Linked DNA regions of Homo sapiens. The protein of the gene in region 2 purifies or fractionates together with the protein of the main gene of each other region. This does not show direct contact. Each region holds a gene or a part of one and is shown on either strand. Other genes may lie near its edges. The genes, in order: CARNMT1 and CIMAP1C.

Region 1 (7,536 bases), on a different chromosome or scaffold from region 2:
GAAAAAGGGGAGCCAGGGGCAGGCAGAAGCAGTGGGTGGGAACCCAGTAGAGAACACCGTTTGCCTCTAGGAGGTATGGTGTCTATACAAATGCTGGTGCAATAAAGGCACTTGATCCCATGGAGGACTACCTTCATCATCTGTTCTCTCAAACCTTGCTCCAGAAAAAGGGGACTTTTACTTGCCTAAGTGATGTTTTCCATTATTTCATTCCTTATCCACAACACCTAACATCTTCCATCTCTCCCTTTCTTCCTTCAGAGTACAGGTTGTCCCAGTCTCAGAGTTCAGAGAAAAATAAACAAAAACTTTCTATGTTGTAAAATAAATAAATAAATAAAAACAATCTATGTTGTTGCTATCCCTGCTTTAAGCCCTCCAATGGCTTCCTGTTTCTCTGAGTACAATTCCAAGTCCTTGCTATGGCCTGCCAACAAGTTTGCCTCATCAAACCCTCTCGAGGCTGACCTCTCACCACTGTACCCATTGCTTACTACAGCCTAGCTCCTCCTTGAGCAGAGCAAGCACTCACTCTACTCCCTGATCCTCTTCCCTTGCCATTCCCCATCTGCAAAATTTTGCCTTCAAATATCTCAGTGGTTTGTCTGTGTACTCTTTCAAGGTTCTCTACTAGACATTTTTTTTTTTTAGTTTCTACTCTTAGAAAGGCTTTCCCTGACAACTCTATATAAAGCAGCAGCCTCTCCCCAGTCACTCTGTAACCCGTCTTCCCTGCCTTATTTTTTCTTCCTTACAATATTGTATTTGTTATTGCCTCACTTTCTCTATTGGAAGTTCTCTGTGGACAGGGATTTTGTTTTGTTCACTGTTCTCTTTTGACACCTAGAAAAATACCTAGTACTTAGTAGGTGCTCAACAAATACCTATTGACTCAATGATCTTGCTGAACCCTCGGTATTCTATTTTGCTTTCCTTTTAGTGCCAATCTCCCTCTCCACTTTCCCTATTACCATCTCCCTTTCTCTCCTGCCTAGCTCAGATTTCTTCAACAGTTTGCCAGGCTGAAGTCAACTGTGCAGCCTGACTATACAAGTCCTCCATGATCTGGAACAAATTCACTTTTCTAGCAATAGCTCCTATTAAATCTCATTAAATCTCCCATTAAATCTTTTCTTTCCCTGCCAGTACAGCTGTGCTGCCATCCCCAATCACCTTGTTCATATCTTTGTACTTCTGTCTGCCTCAAATGCTATTCTCTCAACCTTCAAGTCATAGCCTCACTATGAACAGCTTCCTTCTTACACTAATAACCTTTCATTTTTTTGGTATTCATTACTCATTTAACCTTTGTTTACATGGTATCTCTTAGTATTAATGGGCCCAACAGATTCTAAATTTCTTGACTGTAGATATCTTACACTTCTTATTTCCTATCACTGCCTTGTACACGACCTTGAAAACATTCTAAATTGACACTGACATATGCCTTATGTTCTACCATCAAAATGAATGATCTAAACCTTGGCTTAGGATAAAACTAGCTCATTAAATTTAGAATAAAGGACAAGACTTTTTAAACGCTTGATTTGGACTTACTGCATTCTGAATAAATCTCTTGAAAATCTCCTGCTGTCATAGAAAAGTTAGAACCAGGAGGAAGACTGTGGGGGTCAACATCAGGGAAAAAGATGGGTCGAATCTGATCAGCTGATCTCCGGTTATTGCTAAACTGATGGATCCAAGGATAAAGTTTATATTTATTAATTTCAGAACATCTGCAAAATATGAGTATAAAATCAGGTGTTAACTAAATATTTTACCAAGAAAATCCACTTTAAATACTAAAAATATACTGTTTAATTGAAGATTTGCATATATAATTAATATTTAAAGAGTCACTATTACAGCTTCCCTAATTATCTGAAAATGTACATATACATGTAGATGAGCAACCAATCAATGGATTAAAGACAGAAAAAAAAAGTAAATTCAGAGATATAAATGTGCTGTTCATTCAGATTTTTAAAAATGTATTTCTAAACTTCAAAACCAAGTAATAACAGTCCAACGAGGTTTTTTAAAATGGTACTGGTTTCAACTAAAACAGTTTGCTATTTTTTGTATAACCCTCTTCTTTTTTCCCTTTTTCACCAATCCCCTAAAACTCATACTGCCATCCGAGACAACATATTATTTAAACAAGGCAGCTACTCAATGTACATCTTCTGGCTTTAAAAATAACAATTGTTTTCCACTGCCTTCCAAAAGAGGCCACAGAAGTTCTGAGAGATCTTTCCAACTCAGTCATGAGAGCATACTTGGCCATTTTATAAGAACTTGATTAAGGAGAAAAAGTTATAATTGCTAAACTAAACTCTTATTTAACTAAAGAAACAAGGAAGTAAAGAAGCTTAAGGAATAAATTTAGAAATACTCCTTCCTGGTTCATACTTAGTCCTGAAGATTTTGTACAGAAATCATTTCATGGAATGCCCAGTCACTTTCTATAAAGTCACTTACCCATCTTGTTTCAACACTCTAATAACTAGGCAATTGGTTCAAGTGATAATTTGTGTAAGTACTTTGATTTTAACATAAGACACATTTGTGATATATATAATAATCAAATGCTATGTACTTATCTTCAAATTCAAAATTGTTCAAGAAAATAGGTAAGTCAATCTGATTCTGAGAAATTACTATTTCCAGCAAAAAATAAATTAAATACCTGTTGAGTACAAAGTTGGAAGAAAAGAGCATAAAAAAACTCCATTCATTTCCTTGACAAGCATAACCTAGCATAGCTATTTCCCAGGCCAGTCTTCCTAGTCCAGCACCAGGTACCAGAATATTTACTTTAGAAGGATCCCTGAAATGAAATAAGGCAATTATGTCCAACCCCTCAAAGAAAAAAAGGAAAAGACAAAATCCACATTAACAACTAAAAACTTACTCATTTACTCAATAAGAATAAGCTAAGACTCTGACTTCTCACAATCAAGAAATACTTCTAAATATCAAAAATAAAAGGTATAAGGAATTATTATGTATGTTCCGATATCAGATGAGGGTTTTACCCCTCAAAAATTATTTTTCAGAAAAAAGGAGTCCCCTTACATCTCAAGACTTATAAAGTCACTCATATTCCTAATAGCTGTCACCCTGAACAACTATCTTAGAAAGACAAATTATTCCAAAGGGATCCCAATTAAATATGAAGAGTTTGAACAAAAGTACTTCATCATATGGGACAATAAATACAACATAACTTTATTTCTAAATTTTATATGTAACTCAATTGTTTATGTTAGATTAAACAGATGTAGAGTTTAATGTGTCAGGTATATCTCTAAATCCCTATATATTTTAGTTGACAGAAGAATTTGGGGGAGGGGATATTTTCATGGGGAAAATGGGAAACGGCCCTCTAATTAAACATACATGATAACAAATATATTACACCAAACCAGAGGTTCACAACCAAACTGATCTCTACCTACTAGCACCACACTGCCATTACATATTTCCTTCACGTAAGATCCATCATTCCACTTTCAAACCACTAAAAGTTTTACCAAAACAAGGCTTTTTCTCAGGAATTTTGGCAAATCAATATAATCCCGAGGAAACTAAAATTGTAGTCTTATAAGAAGCCAAAGGAAAATGTATACAATCAGCTAATATCATGTCAGGAAGTAAAAAGAAACTTCACTACTGTATTTCCTAAATTTGGTTCACAAATCAAATCCAATTTCCAAATCTACTCCTACTAATGATTTTTTTATCTTTAACTATGTGGCCTTTAAGTTTGGCATGCTCCAAGCAGCAACAGGGCACTTTACTAGTAGCCCATATAACCTTTGCATGTCCCACTTCAAAATAAGAAAGAACACTATGGGGCTTTTGAAAACTCATAGCTCTAGGACTCTGTGCTATTCCTTATATAAGGGAACTGCCATGATGGCATCCTACTCAGACCTAACGCTCTCTCATTTCTCACTCCCTACCAGACCCACCGAAACCCCTACTCTGGAGAATTACCTTTCTTTTCTCAGTTCCCATCTGTCCAATCATAACATGCATTTCTACCCTTACCCCAGCAAGTGGCTGTTCTCAGTTTAGAATTTTTTTTTTAATTATCTGATCAAACTCATGCAACAGAAAGCAAAAGGATTTGGAAGTAAATTCATATAGTATTTAAATCTTTATATAAAAATAACCAGCAATCAATTTCCAAATGGCTGATGACCCCAGTAAAATATTACCATGCAGGAGTTAGAAATTATGCTACCCTGAAGGGAAAGCTGTGACATAATGTTAACAACAATTATTTTGCTAACTTACAGAAAGTTAACTTAATGACTGCTTTTATCAAATTCTCCTTAACTAAACAGAACCATAGAACTCTCCACCTCAACCTAATGGCAGAAAATATATTAACAGTACCTTGTATTAAAACTGCTATTGAAAGGCTACCCATCAAGTCACAGAATGAAGAATATATCAAAGTCCTATCTTAAGAGTTAACAGACACTAATATAGATGTAAATTACTGGCATTATGACAAAGAGGAAGTGGACATGTAAGAAATGCATTAAAACAAACCCTCTAGAACTGAAAAAATGATCAGGAACTATGCAATGAATGGGTAAGATGGAGAAAATTTTTCCCTAAATCTTTGTTCTTAGCTAGATTTTCTTCATTTGGTCTTTACACAAGGGATATTAACAGCATAATGAAAAGTTCCTCTAACTGTGATGTGCATGAAACTAACGCACTCTAAGTGGGAATTTCTGCTATGAATCCGTATGAAGTCTAGGGCATTTCTATGAGGTCATTTCTGTGGAGAAAAAGAAACACAAATCTAATACAGACCTTAATGGTGAGACAACCTTAAACCAGGCTGAATTTTTTTTTTAAAGCCAGAATAGAAAGGCATACAATATGTGGCTCAGTAATCAAATGGTGCCTACTTGAGATTCTTAGTGAAAACAAGCAAGCCAACAAGTTTACCTAGTTAATAAGGCCCAAATGTGGAGAAGCAGTAGTACATTTACTACAATGTGACCTCCCTAATAACAGGAGGAAAAGTTTCAACAGTTTATTCAAGACAAACAGGAACGGAGAAGGGATACATCTGTAAGGACAGAGTCCATGTGTCTAAAGAGGCCATAGATCACACTTCCATCAACCTTTCTGCTCCAGCTTTTTCACCAGCAGTAAACATTACTCTTGACAGAGGTTTCCTTTGTTACACACAGAACGATCTTTGCACTGCAGTTGTAAATTTTAAAACTCCAACACAAAATGCTGTCTTGTTGGGTCATTATGACACTTGGCTGACCCCTAGTGGTAGAAGTAAATACAACTTTTAAGTACCTACAGTGGTTCTCTTTGAATCATAGTACAGTACAGTAAAAGCCACTAACTACATGTGGCTACTGAACACTTAAAATGTGGCTATTGCAAATTGAGACGTGCTGTAAGTGTAAAATGAACACCAAATTTAAAGACAGTACAAAAAGGAATGAAAAACATCTCATTAATAATCTTTTATTACATTGAAATTTTCAAAATAAAAATAAAATTGCTTCTTTTAAAAAATATGGCTGCCCTGAGCACACTGCCTGTGGCATAGCCCTGCTCTGCAGAGGCAGTCAAAAAAAATTTTTTTTTAATATGAAAAAGAGATCTAAAGCAAATATGGCAAAATGTCAAGGTTTAACAGAGCTAGTATTGAATTTCTTTTTTTTAAATTTGAGACAGTCTTGCTCTGTTGCCCAGGCTGGAGTGCAATAGTGCCATCTCAGGTCACTGCAACCTCTGCCTCTCAGGCTCAGACGATCCTCCTGCCTCAGCCTCCCAAGTGGCTGGGACTACAGGTGTGTGCCACCATGCTCAGCTAATTTTTTTATTTTTAGAGATGGGGTTTCGCCGTGTTGCCCAGGCTGGTCTTGAACTCCTGGGCTCAAGTAACCTACCCACCTTGGCCTCCCAAAGTGCTGGGATTACAGGCATGAGCCACCACACCCAGCCAAAAATTTTTTTATTCATCATAGAAAATTGACTATAAATCAGGAGTGTTTAGCATCTCCTAACTTACCTCTTCATCAACTCCCAACAAAGAACTCTTTATTTCAGCCAGACAACTTCTCACTGATCCCAGAAGACTTTCTTTAGAGCTCTTACCCACAGAAACTCAATTACCTTATTATTATAAATTATCACTTCATCTATATTTCCTAAATATCCCAGGCAAAGTTCCCTGAACTCTCTTCTCTATGCTTTCAATAATTCATTCACAGTTCTATTATAGTTTACATACCAAGGTTCTTCACTTCGCGTCATTCACTTAACACAGGTACAGCAACTATGGCTTGCAGGCCAGTCACCTGTCATTGTAAATGAAGTTTTACTAAAACGCAGCCATACTCACTCATCTAAGAATTGTTTATGGCTGCATTCCTGCAACAAGGCGCTAAGCAGTCTCAACAGAGACGACATTGCCGGCAAAGCCTAACACATTTACTGTTTGGCACTTCAAGAAAACATTTGCCAACCCCTGATCTAATACAATACCCCTGAATCTCCTTCACAGCAGTACACAGAGCTTCCTTAACTCACTGCATGACTGTAACATAATTTATCAAAATCTCCTAATTAAGGATATTTATATTGTTTCCAATCTTTCACTATCATAATGTTAAAACGAATACCCTTAGCATGAATAACTTTTTATTTTGAAAAATTTTACTTCCCACACTACACTAATGTAGTGGCATAAATAACTTTCACATGCAGAAATATATATGTAGAACAGCTTCCCTTAAATTGAACTTCAAGAATCAAGATATGCATTTGTTTTTTGTTTTGTTTTGTTCTGTTTTGCTATGAGACGGAGTCTCGCTCTGTCGCCCAGGCTAGAGTGCAGTGGCACAATCTTGACTCACTGCAACCTCCGCCTCCAGGGTTAAAGCAATTCTCCTGCCTCAGCCTCCCAAATTGCTGGGACTACAGGCCCGTGCCACCACACCCAGCTAATTTTTGTATTTTTAGTAGAGACAGGTTTCACCATGTTAGCAAGGCTGGTCTTGAACTCCTGACCTCAGGTGATCCACCTACTTCAGCCTCCCAAAGTGTTGGGATTACAGGCGTGAGCCACGGCGCCTGGCCAAGATATGCATTTGAATTTTGACAAATAAGCCACATTGTTCTACATAATTTTTTGCTAATTTATTCTTCCACCAGCAACATATTTATGTTTCCTCACACCTGCACTAATAGTTATCTTTTAAATCTTTGCAATAAAATAAGTAAAAAATGGCATCTTAACGTGGTTTTTACATTTGCATTTCCCTATGAGATTGAGTGTCCTGTATTTCTTTTTCTGTGATCTATTTACAGGATTTGTCTACTGGGTTATGAATGCTGAGTGGTTTTTCTACTGTGTTATTCTTCTAGATCTGTAAGCACTTGAAATCTTGACTTGAAAGAAATATGAAACACATACCTGTCTTTGGTCTCAGGATGAGGGAGAAATCTATCTTTAGTCTCTGAACTACCACCTGCACTATT
Region 2 (8,400 bases):
GCACAGGTGGAGTGAGTGCTTGATGCCCATGGTGAAAGCAGGGATGTGGGGCTTGTGCACAGTGACCTGCTGGACCTCGTGGGAGCCGGGGCCAGGCCGTGGCGTGAGGTCCAGAGGGTAGGCGAAGCGCTTGGCCATGCTGTAAGTAGGGCTGCGGTTCTGATAGATGGATGGCTCAGGTCGGGCGTACGTGGTAGGTCCAGGGCCTCCTGCCACATCCTCCTTGTAGAACCAGTTCTTGTCCCTGGAGGCCAGACTGTAGCAGGGAGCAGCTCGGCTGACAGGGGTGTTGGGCCCCAGCAAGAGTGGCATCTGGTACTGGTTGGGAGCCGGGTTGAGGTCCATCACTCTGTATGGGCGCCGGTAGCCAAACGTGTACTGGGGAGCCCTGCGTTCCCCCGGTGGGTGGATCTTCTCAAAGTAGTACTGGCAGGATGCGAGGGTGGGGTTCAGGCCTGAAAGGGAGTGGCGGGAAGGGAGGGCTCTCAGAGCAGGGAACAGACCTCATTCTCTGCTAGCCAACTGATGGTCCTGGTTATCCACTGTGACCTCAGGCTGACCACCTCAGCAGCAGGGCAGGGACATCCAAATGGTCACTTAGGCCGGACGCGGTGGCTCACACCTGCAATCCCAGCACTTTGGGAGGCTAAGGCAGGCAGATCACAAGATCAGGAGTTCGAGACCAGCCTGACCAACATGGTGAAACCCCATCTCTACTAAAAATACAAAAATTAGCTGGGCGTGGTGGCGTGCACCTGTAATCCCAGCTATTCAGAAGGCTGAGGCAGGAGAATCACTCCAACCCAGGAGGTGGAGGTTGCAGTGAGCCGAGATCACGCCACTGCACTCCAGCCTGGGCAACAGAGCGAGACTCGATCTAAATAAATAAATAATAAATAAATAAGATGGTCACTTAGGCCATCCTGACATCAGGATGGCAACACAGTGGTCATCATGTAAAAAACCATAATGTCATCATAACATTCCCCTTGGATTACCCCCAGTTGCTACAGTGTCAGCATCCAGACATTGTCCCTCTGACAGCGACACAGAAACATTCTGAGATCACTACAGTCTGTGAGCTCGTTCGCATGACAATATTGCATCCACAACAGGAGCTCCATGTCATCATAACGTCACCTGGTGACATGCTGCATGTCATAACATTGACTTCAAGACATGGTGATGTCAGCATTGCAATGTCGGTGTCTTGCAGGGAGATACCGGCATCCAGACATTTCCAAGGAGGAAGTCTTGACCCTTTGCCCCTGCCCAGGTCCTAAGGGTGCACCCCACCCCCCAACCTCCCAACCCCCAACATCTGTCCATAACCCCATCTTACGCAGGTTGGAGATGCGCTCCTCCATGGGGACCTGCGGGCAGCTGGACATTCCAAACCGAGTTATTTTGGGATCCAAGAGATAGCAAGGCCCAGGGCTGCTGTGGCACACCATCCCTGCAGGGCAACCAAGGAGAGGGCCTGGTCAGCCCCAAAGGCTGCCCCACTGAGCACCTGGCCTGCCTCCAGGCAAGATCTCCCTCCCACTTCAGATTCTGTGGCTCCTGGGTGTTTGGGGACCCTTGATTTCCTCATCTGTAAAATGGGACTTTTAACACATGACCTGGTATTTTCAAGAACTTGCTCAGAGGAACAGTAAAATAACAGCTGCCCAGCAGCTTGGGCAGCCACCCACCCAATCAGGGGTTGGGGCCAACGGGGAGTAATAGCCCTGTGGCTGCTGTGGGCATTCAGCAAAGGCCCAGCCAGGCCAGGGGCTTACCTTGCTGAGGTGGGTATTCTCCCCAGGGAAAGGCCTGACAGGCACCCCAGATCTCAGACCCCCGGGTGCACGCCACCACACCCTGCCCAGCAGCATAGGTCATCTGTGGCCTCTGCTTCTGCCCTTCCAGTGGGTTCTAGGCCACCTGAGGAGCTCTGGGGGCCACCACTTCCCCACTGGCCTCCTAGCTGTTCCTGCCTGGCCACAATGGCAAGTGACCCTAGCAGAGCATGGCGACCGGAGCTGAAGGGCCCCAGCCAAAGGCCAGAAAAAGGAGACTCTGCTGTGCCAGCTGGACAGGGCCAGGATCCCCTATAGGCTCCCTTGGGAGAGGCGGCTAGGGGATGCCCATGGAGTTGCCCCACCCTCAATCCCCGCTGGCTTCCTCTGGACCCAGGGGGCCCCTTGAGTGTCTCAGATTCCCAGTGGCTACAGAGAATGGCTCCATGTCTCTCCCCTCAACCTCCAACAACAGCTCCAACCCCAGCCGGATGACTGGGGTGGCAACGCTCACGCTTCTCTGAGTGCCGGCTATGCAGGGTATAAGCTGGTGCCTTGAACATGGAGATGTCATGATCTATGTAGCCCGTGCAGGATGGCCGGAGGTACTTGGCGGGCCCCGGACCTGTAAGGATGGACAGGACAGCCCTCAGCCTGGGCCCACCAGGTCAGAGGCAGGGGAAGCCCCAGTACAGCGCACCATGGGAACATTGGGGGTATTTGTTCTTGCTGCTATCGCACTGCCACGAGCCCAGCATCCATCCAGCTGCTTCGTTTGGGGGAAGGCAGTATTTCCAGATAAAATGCAGTTTCCCTTGGACAGACAATGCATAATAAGAAGCTAATAGTTACAGTTAATTGAGAACTTATTCTGCTCCAGGTTCTCCACTAGGCATCCGACGTGGATTATTTCCGTTAAGCCTCTGAACAATGCTGTAAGGTAAATGCTCTTGTTTTTCCCATTTTACAGAATATTGAGGCTTAGAAATATCTACCCACATATCACAAACTAGTAGTGTGAAGATTCTAAGACCATCATCCAGTAGAACCCAAACCTTCAATCCCTGCACTAAACTACTCCCACTTAGAGCACTAGTCAGTCATTACCAACATAGTAAGAATTAGCGTCTGCTGTCCCTTGAGAGTAAAATTGAAGGGAAGTGAGGAAAGCTAAAGCTAGGACAAAGGCTCCTAGTCTTTTTCCAAAGCGGGCCTCACTGCAAGTCCCATGCTCCCCTCCTCCCCCACCCACTTGGACAATCCCAGCAGCCAACACTGCCTGTGAGGGTCAGCTTGGAGGCTCAGGTCTTCTGTAAGGCTTCAAGGAAGTTGGAAGGGGCTTTGCAGGAGGCAGGCTGGAAGGAGTCCTGGAGAGAGGGGAGGGGGCCCAAGCCCAGGGTGGGGATGGCTCTCACCTTTGATCTTGGCCATGATGACAGGGGTCTGCTTGACCTCCTGCCTTGAGGGCAATGGCTCCTTTTCTGGGTGCTGTGCAAAGTACACAGAGCTCCTGGTCCCCTTGGGCAGTTTCATGGCTGGGGCTGGGCAGGGAGCAGCAGCAGCTACAGCAGGGTCTAAACAGCAGTCAAGGGGCTAGAGTATCCCTGCCTGAGACCCCCCCATCCCCCACCCCAGACACGGAGGAAGCTGGGAAGGAAGACAGTTCTCCAGCTTGAGCAGCTAAGGCTGTCTGGGGCACAGTCAGCACAGGCCCCAGCAGGCTGGAGCTGGAGATGACGTCACGGCAGAGCTTGGACTGTGAAACTCGTAGTGTTTATTTCCCCTGGTTGCCATGGCGCCTGAACTGCGGCGTGGAAATTCTATGCTGGGAGCTTAGTTATGGAACCCTGACTATCCCACTGTCCCCCATCACCAACCAGGCCAAGTGGCCTGGGGGTCCCCAGGACCCTGGGTCAGGGAAGGGAAATGGAGAGATGGTGTTACGTATCAGCTAGCGCTTCACTCCCAGTGGGTGCCCTAAGGTTGGGGAAAGGAATGGAAAGGGTTGGTGGGTCACGGGTGAAGGGTTTGTGCAGCACACACAGCCCCCTGGGGGCTCTCTACCCCCTGCCTCTCCCACCTACCTCCCAGGCTCTGGACATGCCCTCTCTTCTGTCAAGTCTATTTTTCCCCTGGCAAAATATCAAGTCAATTATCACTAAGGTGTGACTGTCTGATAGCTCCTCCCCAGAATCCTATCCCAGGGTGTGGTATCTTTAGAGATCCATGTCTAGCTCAATGGATACAAAAAGGAGTGGGAAGCAAATAAAGGAGGACAGAGGGGTGGTGCTGAGCCTTCAAGGGGCTGCTTCCTGTGCCTGTGACCAAGAGCACTCCCTTGGCAGGGGAGCAGTTGGAGTTGGAGGGCGGTATGAGAGGACACATAGAAGGGGAGGGAAGGCAGCCAGCCCCATCTGACGGATGGATGAGCCCCAGGCCTGAAAACATGCTGGGAACCTCTTCATTCCTAAGAACCCAGGAGGCTTTTGGGGGCCTGGGGCCTGTCACCTCCACTGTTCGTAACAGACTAGGGATTTGACCTGAACCGGGTCAGCGGTGTCCATCTCAGGAACCAGATGACTGCTGGCTTTAGACAGGGGTGTCTGTCACCACCCCAGTACACAGTTAAGAAAACTGAGGCCCGGAAAGGAACAAGGACTTGCCCAAAGTCTCCTACTACATCAAAATAGCAGAGATGGAACCAGGACACAAAACCCAGGGCTCTCCTTGGATCATAGTCTCTGATTGAATAGAAACCAAGCCATGCTCTGAACGCATTCCAGTCAGCAGGCACAGCGAGGGCTCAGAGCAGCAGGTAGGACAGGCATGCAGGGTGTCCAGAAGCCCCTGAGGGACCACAGGCCTCAGAACAGAGGACAGGGGCCCAGTCCCCCCAGCAGCAGACCCTGTGTGCCCCCATATGCCCATGGGGCAAGTAAACCTCTGATTTCTGGGTAAGGGAGGGCTGAGCCAGGCTGGGGGGTGACCCAGCCTCACTGGCCTCAGGCCAGGGCCAATGCTATGTCCTCAGCCCCATCCGCGTCAGCTTTTCCTGTAGGAAGCTGCGAGCCCTGATGGTATCCCAGTGCTGAGAGGGGCCGGATCTGGGGCTGGGACCCCCACCTTCCTGGTGAGCGGGCAGTCTCCAAGTATTTCAGGCCCGGGGAGCCTCCTGCCTTCCTCCCTCACTGCTTCTGCCCCATCATCCTGGTGCACAGCTCTTCAGGAAACTAGGCCACCCCGCACCCCAGCAGGTCACAAGCCACTCCAATTTGTTCCAAATGCTTCCTTTCCTCCAGCTCTGATGGAGACCCAGCTCACCCCTGGAGGTGGCCCTCGGCCCTGTCCAAAGCTGGCTGCTCCGACATTCACATCCCTCATGCCTCAGAGTCCACAGTGCCGTGGGTCTCTGGCTGCCTTGGTCCCCAGACTGTGCCCTCCCCATCAAATGCCCCATTCCTCTGGGGCACTGGCATCCAGGTGTGTCCCCCTTCAGCTCCTCAGGGCTGCCCTGGGTCCCTACTCATAAACCTAGCAGCCGTGGCTCGAGGCCACCTCCACCCCACCCCAACTCCTGCCATGACCCTGATAGCTCAGGCCTCCCCAGGGACCACCACCAATGCCCTGGCCTCCCCGTTCCCAGACCTCCTCATGTGCAAACACCTCCACTCCACTCCCTCACAGGCCGGTCCCCCACTGCAATCCTGGGCTTCTCACCACCTCCCACAGCACTGACAGCCAGTCTCTCTGGGAGGCCATCCCCTGCCCCCCATCTCTGAGACCCCAGTGCTGACCCTGCACTCCCTGCACTTCTGCGTCATCCTTCAGGCCCCTCCAGCTTTCACCACCCTCCTCATCCAGCCCCTTTCCTGGAACATCCCAGCACTGCGTCCCCCAGGTCTGCGTTGTCCATCTGCATCAGGCAGCTAAAGCTGTCAGGACAGTCTCATGGCCAGAACCTTGGACCTGCCCTCCTCGCCACCTGCCACCCACCCCCACCTCTGGGCAGCCTGCCCTCCCCCTCTCCCCCACCCCCAGGGATCATCCCCTGCATGGCTCACTCTCCTCTGTTCGCCTGGCCATCCTTCCGGCCCCCCCATCCACCTGCCCCATCAGGCTGGGCTCTGACGAGTACCCCCCATCACAGCCTCAGAACCGCCATGTCTTTTGTCATCGGCTCCCACGTCCCGCCTGGGACACTGTGGATTGCACCCCTCTCCTTGGACTTGCGCCTCTCATCTGGCTCCCTCCTGTCACACTCTAGATATCCTAAGTCCCCTCTATCTATTCAAACTGTCCCCCAAGCCCACATGCTTCTCCGTCACTGCCTGTCCCTCTCTGCCCAGCCCACAGACCACCTTCCCCACAGAGGTGTTTTCCAGTCATCTCCATTCTCACCTCCCTCTCACACTTGACTCAGCCTGAGTTGGCTCCAGGCCCACTGCTCCACCCGAAAGAGGCTTAACTCGACGCCCGCCACCTGCAGGTGGCAGCTGCTTCCAAGGGACACTCTTCATCCTCTAATGCAATAAATGCCAGCCCTGCCTCACTCATGCTGCCCCTCCTGCTGGCTCCAGGACGCCCTCCTTCTTTCCTTCTGTCTCTCGGCTGCCCCTGCACTGGCTTTCTTCCTGGCTTCCTTCCTTCCTCAACCTGACCTTTCAATGTTGGCGTATGCTTATTCATTGCAAAGGGGAAACAGTAACTTTATAGAAGAGAGGCCTGGCAGGCATCACCTCAACCAAGTGATACGAGTCAACATCCCAATGATTGCACAATAGATGTGTGCCTCTTGGTTTTGTTTGTTTGGTTTTTTTGTGGGGGATTTTTGGGGGAGACAGAGTCTTTTGCTCTGTCACCCAGGCTAGAGTGCAGTGGCGTGATCTCAGCTCACTATGACCTCTGCCTCCTGGGTTCAAGCAATTCTCCTGCCTCAGCCTCCTGAATAACTGGGATTAGGGGAGCCTGCTACCATGCCCAGCTAATTTTTGTATTTTTAGGAGAGGCAGGGTTTCACCATGTTGGCCAGGCTGGTCTCGAACTCCTGACCTCAAGTAATCTGCCCTCCTTGGCCTCCCAAAGCGCTGGGATTGCAGGTGTAAGCCACCACGCCCAGCCAGTTATGTGTCTTTTGATAGGCTGCGTGAGAAGGGCACGGCATCACTTCCTAGGCATTCCTGCCACAATACAGAACCTGAATTTAATCATGAGGAAAACAGACAAACTCAAACCAAAATTCACCTAAAAGAACTGGCCTGTACTTGTCAAAAATGGCAACATCATGGAAGACAATGAAACGCTGAAGAACCATGCAAGATGAATAGACACTCAGAAGAAAGCCGAGGTTTTCTTTTGTTATAAAGGATATTTTTGGGAAAATTGGCAAAGCTGGGGAGAAAAAAGTCTATGGCTTAGTTCAAAGTATTGTACCAATGTTAATTTCCTGGTTTTGATCATTGCACTCCAGTTATGAAAGAGAAGGTCCTGTTCTAGGAAATACTGCTTGAGCCCAGGAGATCGAGACCAGCCTGGACAACACAGTGGGACCCTGTCACTACCAAAAAAGAAAAAAAAAAATAGCCAGGCACGGTGGTGTGTGCCTGTAATCCCATCTACTCAAGCAGGAAGCTCCCTTGAGTCCAGAAGTTTGATGGTGTGGTGAGCTCTGATGGCACCACTGCAGTCCAGCCTGGGCAGCAGAGCGAGACCCTGTCTCATTTTAAAAAAAAAATTAAAAAAGAGGAAAAACTCACTGAAATATTTAGGAATAAAGGAGCATTATGTCTGCAACTTACTTTCAAATGGTTCAGAAAAATAGAGAGAGAGATGGCCGGGTGTGGTGGCTCATGCTTGTAATCCCAGCACTTTGGGAGGCCGAGGCGGGCAAATTACGAGGTCAGGAGATAGAGACCACCCTGGCTAACACAGTAAAACCCCATCTCTGCTAAAAATACAAAAAATTGGCCAGGTGCGGTGGCTCACGCCTGTAATCCCAGCACTTTGGGAGGCCAAGGCAGGCGGATCACAAGGTCAGGAGATCGAGACCATCCTGGCTAACAAGGTGAAACCCTGTCTCTACTAAAAATACAAAAAAAAAAAAAAAATTAGCCGGGCGTGGTGGCGGGCGCCTGTAGTCCCAGCTACTCGGGAGGCTGAGGCAAGAGAATGGCGTGAACCCAGGAGGCGGAGCTTGCAGTGAGCCAAGATGGGGCCACTGCACTGTACTCAAGCCTGGGCGACAGAGCAACACTCCATCTCCAAAAAAAAAAAAAAAAAAAAAAAAAAATACAAAAAATTAGCTGGGCTTGGTGGCACGTGCCTGTGGTCCCAGCTACTCGGGAAGCTGAGGCAGGAGAATCGCTTGAACCTGGGAGGCAGAGGTTGCAGTGAGCTGAGAATGCACCACTGTACTCCAGCCTGGAAACAGTGAGACTCCATCTAAAAAAAAAAAAAGAGAGAGAGAGAGAAAAGAATTTAAAATGTGGTAAACAATTAACATTTGGGAAATCTAGGTGGAGTATGTGGGAAACATTTGTAATCATCTTGCCACTTTTATCTAAGTCTGAAATTATGTCAAAATAAACATTTTAAGGAAGAGACGTTGGTGTCTCAGGGCTCA

The links.
Region 1: the proteins of CIMAP1C (region 2) and CARNMT1 purify together in Homo sapiens (affinity purification with mass spectrometry; 3 studies listed by BioGRID and IntAct, with this or other methods). This does not show direct contact.

Annotation. Positions count from the first base shown.
Region 1 is NC_000009.12:74,997,041-75,004,576, forward strand, and holds part of CARNMT1 (carnosine N-methyltransferase), read right to left. Parts: exon of another isoform or gene 2,837-7,536; intron 2,831-2,836; coding exon 2,690-2,830; intron 1,737-2,689; coding exon 1,558-1,736; intron 343-1,557; exon of another isoform or gene 280-342; coding exon of another isoform or gene 215-279; exon of another isoform or gene 1-214.
Region 2 is NC_000015.10:75,719,114-75,727,513, reverse strand, and holds the start of CIMAP1C (protein CIMAP1C), read right to left. Parts: upstream 3,474-8,400; 5' UTR 3,315-3,473; coding exon 3,197-3,314; intron 2,407-3,196; coding exon 2,296-2,406; coding exon of another isoform or gene 2,245-2,295; intron 1,457-2,244; coding exon 1,343-1,456; intron 456-1,342; coding exon 1-455.